Regions from separate parts of the Homo sapiens genome. Here regions 1 and 2 are each linked to region 3. The links come from fine-mapping of genetic effects on gene expression. A gene starts in region 3. Each other region holds a variant in brackets. All regions are shown on one strand. Distances are between the middles of the regions. Region 1 holds the start of TRK-CTT5-1 (tRNA-Lys (anticodon CTT) 5-1). Region 2 holds the start of TRK-CTT8-1 (tRNA-Lys (anticodon CTT) 8-1). Region 3 holds the start of ZNF213 (zinc finger protein 213).

Region 1 (2,757 bases), 45 kb before region 3:
TCTTCACTGTCAGACACCTTAAAAGCTCTACACTGGGATTCCCACCCAGTGTCCCTGGCTCCGGCGGCTAGAGCCTTAAGGAGAGAAAGCCGGGCACTTGAGCAGAGGAGATGGGCTATGGGCGTTTGTATCTGGGGTCTAGAGTCCTCTCCCTCCCCACATCCCGACACTCCTCACCTGCGTGTAGCCTTCTGGGGCTCCTCTCCTCCCCTATCCTAGTTCTGGAAGGGGTACAGACTGAACCCAGGAACCCGGGTATCTGCGTCCTGAGTCCCAGCGCCCACCAGGACTGGGGCCTCCTCACATCTACTCTGAGGACAGAATCTATTGGCAGAGTCTTCCTTTTTGTTTGGGATGCTGGGTTTGAGAACATGCCGGGAACCAAGAGTCGTGACTAATCCAATTTTGAGCGCTTGAGGACCAAGTGGAAAGAAACTCAAGCAGATTTAAAGTGACCAATGTCTGGTTATGCCCTTGAGCCCCTGCAGAAGCAAACAATAATTTTGTGTGTGTGTGGACAAATACATTTGTATTCCAGATCTCACAGAATTTCCTACACAAAGAAATTTGCAAGGAAAATGGACATTGCACCCTAAAAATTAACAAGGAAAGAAGGTACCAGGAGCAACAACTCATTAACAGGAACAGAAACAATATTGCAAATATTTCAGATGCAAAGTGTATCCGACTTATAATACAACTGTCCCTACTGTGTCTAAAGAAATGAAAGGCAATAAAGAAAATATCTTTGACATCAGGACCTCCAACCTTCTTGATTGAAAAAAGAACCAAATAGTTCTAGATATAGAAGCACACGGTAATGGAAAGGGAACAACTAGATGCACGCCACAGTAGGTTACAGTGCGGAGCAGCACCTGCGAGGGCTTCTGTGAGTCCCAGTGAGCTTTGGGCTTTCTGTCTGCAGCTGCAAGGATGGCCCATACACAGCAGAACTCTCCTGTCCCTGTAACTCAAGTGGCCTCAAAAAAAAAAAAAAAAAAAAAAAAAGGGTTGCCAAGGTTGTCATTGACTCTTTAAGTGCGTGCAGTCGCAGTCTGAGAATGTTTTTTCTCTTTCTGAAAGAAGGCCTTTTCAGAGGAGGGCACGGACTGGGAGAACACAGATATATGCCGGCGCGGTGACGAAGGAGACTCTGGCAGGTCACCCCCATTTATGGGAGATTGCGGGGTGGTGAGGGAAATCCTGCACTAGCGGGGACGTCGGTGGCGAACTGAGTCTGTTGTGGGGGACCCCAAGCGCGCCCTGGTTTCCCGGGGTGATTCATTACCTCCCTTTGTTTCCACCACCCTTAGGCCACTCGGCCCATTTGTAGATATGGAAAAGATCCTATAAGGAAGCCCGGCTAGCTCAGTCGATAGAGCATGAGACTCTTAAT[C/T]TCAGGGTCGTGGGTTCGAGCCGCACGTTGGGCGTGCCTTTTGCTGTACCATGAAGGTACATCTTTTTCTCCCAGCTTTCTGCCCCTGGCAATGCAAGACTTGGTGAAAGAAGAAACTCAAGCAGAAGATTTAAAGTGACCAATGTCTGGTTATGCCCTCCCCTGCTTATTCCAGAAAGCCATCCTGGCTCCTGCCCCATGGATGCGGTTCCTACCTGGAAGACCAGGAGAACAGTAATTCCTCGCTCCTTGATAGCAGAGGCCCTGGGGAAGACCCCCACTAGGGTTTTCCTTTTCTGGGATCCCAACAGGGCTGTCCTCATTAAAACAGAAGAAAGTCTGAGAACCTTAGCTTGTACAGGATTGGACTCTCTTGTACCCTAAGCAACAATCATAGCCTGGACAAGGAGCCACCTACAAAACCTTTCTCTGCTTATCTCCCATCGTCCTTATGCCTGGCTCCACCCTTGTCCAGCAACACTGCCCAGATGCTGATCCCCAGGGGGTCATGTCAGGTAGAGTTTGACTCAGGTCCCATCAAGTAGAGGGGGATAGAGATCCCAATGTTCACTAGTTTGACAGTCCCAGTGTCTGGCTTTCCTGCCTTCCTCTCTGATTAGAGGCCTCCAGCCCAGGGAGGTGGGTGCCGGATCCTCCCAGAAGTGCCCAGTGCAGCCGGAGGGAGCAGCTGTGGTCTCCTGAGTTACCCAACCTCCCTCCACCCGGACCCTCTGGGTGCATACAAGATTTCACTGGATCTCTGCTTGTACGGCCAGCGTGGTGCTGCTGGTACCTGCTTGCAGAGTTGTGAGGCTGGTGACGGTGACCCAGGGGGCAGAGATTAGGATGTTCAACATTAGCAGTAGACGTAGCTAATGCTTATTAGGCTCACCATGCCTAACACTCTTGTAAGCTCTTTACTTATCTAAACTCGTTTAATCTTCACTACTATACTCTTATTATTGCATTTTCAGACAAAATTGAGGAGCTGGGATGGAAACATGGAAACCCAGTCAACCTGCCACAGAATGTGCCCTCCCAACCCCAGCAGGTCAGGGAAGCGGACGGCAGGGAAGAGAAGGTCTGCTTGACTTGGTGTCGGCATTCCTGGGGCAGTGAGGTTTATTGACTGATTGATTTACTGATTGAGATGAGTCTCGCTCTGTCACGCAGGCTGGAGTGTGGTGATGGGATATCCGCTCACTGCAACCTCTGCCTCCCGGGTTCAAGGAATTCTCCTGCTCAGCCTCCCTTGAGTAGCTATGATTGCAGGAACGCGCCACCACGGCCGGCTAATTTTTGTATGTTTTTAGTAGACATGGGGTTTCACCATGTTGGCCAGGCTGGTCTCGAACTCCTGG
Region 2 (2,757 bases), 29 kb before region 3:
TTCTAGATAGCAGTAGCAGAATTAGTGAAAGTATTAAAAGCCTCTAAAATGCAGAAATAATGGCGTAAGCTGTCTTTCCTCTCTCTCTCTCCTCCTCGGGTGCCATACAGGGAAGGGCCCCGTCCAGTGGACATGTGACCCACGTGACCTCACCTATCACTGGAGATGGCTCACACTCCTTACCCTGCCCCCTTGCCTTGTATCCAATAAATAACAGGGCAGCCTGGCATTCGGGGCCACTACCGGTCTCCGCGTCTTGGTGGTGGTGGTCCCCCCGGGGCCCAACTGTCTTTTCTTTTATCTCTTTGTCTTGTGTCTTTATTTCTATGGTCTCTCATCTACATACATGGGGAGAAAACCCCACAGACCCTGTAGGGCTGGCCCCTACATTGACCCACAGTCTCAGCTGAACTGGGTGGGAGGGCCCTTCTCCCTTGGCTGAACTTGGAAGCAGCACATCCACCTCCAGCCCTGGGACTGAGTCTCCTGGGGGAGGGAAGGAAACTTTGGGTCTTGTGCTAACGTAAAGGGATCCAGGTTCTCTACCCCAGCCTAGGGTGAGCAGACAGAACTTCCTGGGGTGCAAATCTCCTATTCCTTTTCCCTAAGAGACTCTGGTTCTCGGACACCGGCTGTGAGAGATAACACAGCAGTCCAGTGGTCAGATTGATGAATTTGGGAGGAGGCCTTGAAACCTCTGATGGGGACACAGATTGAGTTGGGACTCAGTGAAACTTTACCTTCCAGTTAGGGGCCAAGCTTCGGAAACTGGGTCACCTGCGATGATGCTGAATTCTGTGTACCAAGAATGGTAAAAGCTCCGCCCAACATGGAGCTCGAGCCCACGACCCTGAGATTAAGAGTCTCATGCTTTGCCGACTGAGCTAGCCAGGCTGATGTAATAATACTTGCTTCCCACCCTAATACTCAGAATCCTCAAAACAGGCGCTGCAAAAACAAAAACAAAAACAAAAAAACAAAGGCTGTGGTGACTCTAGTCCCGAGGAGGTGGTGCAGGGATGGCTACCCGCGGAGCCGGCCTCTGGCATTCAGACAGCTGGGTGCACAGTCCCTGCCGGGGTCTCCGGACATCTGGGAGCCCCTATCCTCCCCTTCTCAGCGAGTTGTGTAACCTCAAACCCGAGCCTCCAGTCAGGTGGAATTTGTAGTCAGGGACCATTAGCCATGGGTGGTCCTGAGTGGGAGGCGGGGAGGAAAGGAACAACCTCTCTCTGGGGCCCAAGTGCGGATCCGAAGGGGCCTGGGTCCACGCTTCGCTGCCAATATAAATCCCAATTCCTACTTAATATTGAGCCCAGCCTCTGCATATCTCCAAACCGTTTCAAATGACCCAAAGAACCTGCCTCTTCCCACTCCCCTGCAGATCTGC[A/C]TGCACGGTGGAGGCAAGCGGCTCATGACAGAGGTTTCTCCATGTTGGTCAGGCTGGTCTCGAACTGCCGACCTCAGAACTGCCGACCTCCGGTGATCCGCCCGCCTCCGCCTCCCAAAGTGCTGGGATTACCGGCGATCCCGGCTGCTGGTCTGCGCTGCTTCTGCATTAATGATCAGTGCGGGGTCAGGGGGCCAGCGGAGGCCGGGAAGGAGGGACTGAAGCGAAAGAGTAGAGCAGCGGGGTAGGGTCTGTCCTGAGTGTGTGCCTCACGAAATGGACCCTCTTGTCTTGGGACCCAGTTCTTCCTCGCCTCCCCTTCCCTTCCTTAGATCGGAACAGGAACTGCAGGGCGGCCTCTGTCAAGCACATCTGTGAGAAGAGACCACCAAACAGGCTTTGTGTAAGCAGTAAAACTTTTTTAATCACCTGGGTGCAGGCGGACTGAGTCCGAAAAAGGAGTCAGCGAAGGGAGATGGGGAAGGGGTTGCTTTGTAGGAGTTGGGTAGGTAATGGAAAATTACAGTAAAAGGTGGTTATCTATTGTTAGCAGAGGAGGGGGTCACAAGGTATGTGGTAGGGAGGTCATAAGATTTATTGTCCAAAAGAAGAATGTCACAAAGTCGATTGATCAGCCAAGGTAGGGCAGGGACAAGTCACAGTGGTAGAATGTTGTAATGTTGGTTAATCACTTAAGGCAGGAACCGGCTGTTATACTTCTTTGTGGTTTTTTTGGCTTCTTCAGACTTCTTGGCTCCTGCAGGCCATCTGCACGTATATGTGCAGGTCACAGGGGTTATAATGGTTGAGCTTTAGGCTCAGAGGCCTGACACCTCGACCTGTGACCCAGGGCCCAGCAGCAGCCTCGCGGCCTGGCCGTCATCGGCCATCGGCCCAACTTCCTCTTTGTCCACAAGGGGAGCAGTCTCAGGAGTCCCTCCTGCTCCCAGCCAGGGAGTGTCATCGCAGACCTGGTCATTCTCAAAGCCTGGAAAATCCCAGCTTGAAAATGTCAATCAGGCCGGGCGCGCAGGCGCGGGGGCTCACGCCTGTAATCCCAGCACTTTGGGAGGCTGAGGCGGGTGGATCACCTGAGGTGAGGAGCTGGAGACCAGCCTGGCCAACATGATGAAACTCCGTCTCTACTAAAAATACAAAAAATTAGCCAGGCGTGGTGGCACCCGCCTGTAATCCCAGCTACTCGGGAGGCTGAGGCAGGAGAATCACTTGAACCCCAGAGGCGGAGGTTGTAGTGAGCCGAGATGGCACCACTGCACTCCAGCCTGGGCAACTCCGTCTCAAAAAAAAAACAAAACAACAACAACAACAACAACAAAACAATGTCAATCAACGGACAACGGACACTG
Region 3 (2,757 bases):
TCAAGCGATTCTCCTGCTTCAGCCTCCCAAGTAGCTGGGACTACAGGCACCAGCTACCACGTCCAGCTAATTTTTTGTATTTTTAGTAGAGACGAGGTTTCACCATGTTGGCCAGGATGGTCTCAAACTCCTGACCTTGTGATCCACCCGCCTCGGCCTCCTAAAGTGCTGGGATTACAGGCGTGAGCCACTGCGCCCGGCCTAATTAAAAAATTTTAACTGATATGTTTCATTATTTAGTGTTGCCCCAGATCCCTCTGGAGATGTGCTTGATATATCGTCTGTGCACTATATTATCTTTCTCAAATTTGAAAACCTCTGAATTCCAAAACACATCTGGCCCTGAGGTGTCACAGAAGGGCTTACAGACACCATCCAAAGCCATTTATCCACAGGTACATATAAATGTATGACACATTTATACCTTACATTGTTACTCTCTACTGAAAAGTGTATTATGCAATTTTCAGTAATCGATTTTTTGTTTCAACAATAAAAATACAAACTGGCCGGGCTTGGTGGCTTATGCCTGTAATCCCAGCATTTTGGGAGACAGACACAGGATGATTGCTTGAGGCCAGGGGTTCAAGACCCCTTTGGGAAGACAATGTGAGACGCCATCTGTACCAAAAAACAAAAAAAGCCAGGTGGGGCTCCTGTAGTCCCAGCTACTGGGGAGGCTGAGGAGGAAAGATTGCTTGAGTCCAGGAGTTTGAGGTTGCAATGAGCTATGATCGCACCACTGTACTCCAGCCTGGGCAACAGAGTGAGACCATCTCAAAAAAAAAAAAAAAAGAAAGAAAAGAAAAGTAAAAAGAAAATGAAAAAAATACAAACCATCTTAATAAAAAAGGGAAGATTCAAACAATATAGAAATCTGTAAAACTCTCCCTTCCTCAATACCATTGTACCCCCCGACTTAACAGTCTGACAAATGACGTCCCAGACCTTTTCCTGTGCTTTTACTAAAAAAGTCATCCATAGCGGGGAGAAAAGGTGCTTGATGTGTTTCTACATAAATGAGACCTTACTGCACAGACATTAGCGGCACTATGAGCTTCCGCGGTATGGATATGCTCTAGTTTCTTAATCAATACTCGAGTGATGCATTCGGGTTGTTTCCAATTCTTTAGTCCATCCTAAGCACTTTATTTATTCTGCTCCTCACAAGACCCCTGAAAGGTGCGCGCACCATTCTCATCCTCTGGTGACTTCGAAGAAGACTTTCCTCGAAGAGGGCCAGGACTCACCAGGGTCGCTCAGCAGGACACGGCAGGCGGGAAGGCGAGCCAGCCGGAGCCCCGCGCTGTCCACCGCAGCCTCGCCCGCGGGGCGAGCGGCGATCGTACAGGGGCGTCTGCCGGGGGACCAAGCTGGCAGAGCGGCGCGGGGGACCAGCACTTCCTAGCAGTGCGCGCGCCCTCCGGCCTCTGCCTCGGGGCGCTGATCCCGGCCACTCGGAGCCCGGTGCTTGATGTTGGAGCCAGGCGGCCAGAGGCCCCGTCCCCGCCCCGGCCCCCGCCCCCGCCCCCGCCCCCGAAACACACAACGCCCACTACGGCCCAGGAGATCCCACTTCCGCCGCGAGCTCCCGGCGCCGGAAGTCCTCGCGGGGCTCGCTGGGAAACTACGCTACGCAAGCATTCCCCAGCTCCCAGAAAGCCGTTCGTCCACTGAGCCCGCCTTCTCCATGACCGATGGCCAATGAACAGGAAGAATTCTCAGGCTGCCTATTAGAAGACAGAAACTCCATACGCGTCATACACCTGCACCCGGGAGGAAAGGCGAGGCTCTGCATCTAGATTTACCTCGTTCTCTTTTGTCTCCGCTTTTTTTTCACATTTCCTTGCGACCCTGGCCCTTGAGCGACAAAAAGGGGAAGCCAAGGCTGGCCCGAGGAACGGAGAGGGCACATGGCCTAGCCACAAGTGGAGCTTCTGCTCCGCCCGAAGGGATGCGCTGGAGCGGCCTCTTCCTTCTGCCACGGTCTTTCTTTGCCAACTAGTAGGTGAGGGCCGAAAGGCCGCGGGCCGTGGAGCTCGGGCCGGGGAGACTCTTTTCTAGCCTCTTGGGTCCCGCTCCTCCCAATTCCCTGGAGAGGCGTCGAGCTTGCTGGGAAGTGCCCTCGGGTAAGGGGCGCGGAGCCTCCTGCGGCGATCCTCTGTCTTCGGGTCGCCTTAGCAGGACGCGGCAAGCGGGACACTGACCTGGCCGGAGTCCCGCGTTCTCTCACCAGCTGCTTTGTCCACGAGTTGCTGCTGGGCGTCAGGGGTCCCACGGCCCGGAGGGATCTAGAGCAGGGGGGCTCGGGGTCCTTTCCATACCCTCGGATCCTCTCCCACTCTCTCCACGCCTCGACCCGGAGATGATTTCAGGCTCCAGATCTCTTTCATAAATGGAAAGAGTTTTTTTGGTTTGTTTTGTCTTAATTATGTAGGTGTTGCATGCTTGGAAGAGAAAATTTAGAAAATTAATTGGAAAACCATAAAGATAGCTTTCTCGTGATAGCCACAAGGCTTGCTCCCTCATTCTGCTCATATGTCACCCCCTCAAGGAGGCCTTCCCCAGCTCTGTAAACAACCTGTGCTCGGCGTTAACTTTTCTCCCTAATGTTTATCACTACCTGACATATACGTGTTTCCCACGACTCAACGATAAGTGTTCATGAGGGCAGACACTTTTTAATGCCCTATGACAAGCACCTAGAATTGTGCCTGGCACATGGTAGATGCTTAGTAAATATTTGTTTAATGAATG

Evidence for each region.
Region 1: its variant is fine-mapped to the expression of ZNF213 in whole blood (TOPMed, PIP above 0.99).
Region 2: its variant is fine-mapped to the expression of ZNF213 in fibroblasts (GTEx, PIP 0.97).

What each region holds. Positions count from the first base shown.
Region 1 is chr16:3,179,227-3,181,983 of GRCh38, reverse strand. It overlaps TRK-CTT5-1 (tRNA-Lys (anticodon CTT) 5-1), which reads left to right and starts at 1,358; the gene lies at 1,358-1,430. The variant C/T (reference allele first, on the strand shown) is at 1,397.
Region 2 is chr16:3,163,075-3,165,831 of GRCh38, reverse strand. TRK-CTT8-1 (tRNA-Lys (anticodon CTT) 8-1) reads right to left here and starts at 894; the gene lies at 822-894. The variant A/C (reference allele first, on the strand shown) is at 1,391.
Region 3 is chr16:3,133,881-3,136,637 of GRCh38, reverse strand. It overlaps ZNF213 (zinc finger protein 213), which reads right to left and starts at 1,609. Exons shown (of 6, transcript NM_004220.3): 1 at 1,251-1,609. ZNF213-AS1 (ZNF213 antisense RNA 1) reads left to right here and starts at 1,756. Exons shown (of 6, transcript NR_110900.1): 1 at 1,756-2,008. RefSeq lists a silencer at 1,319-1,548 and enhancers at 1,659-1,848, 1,859-2,028.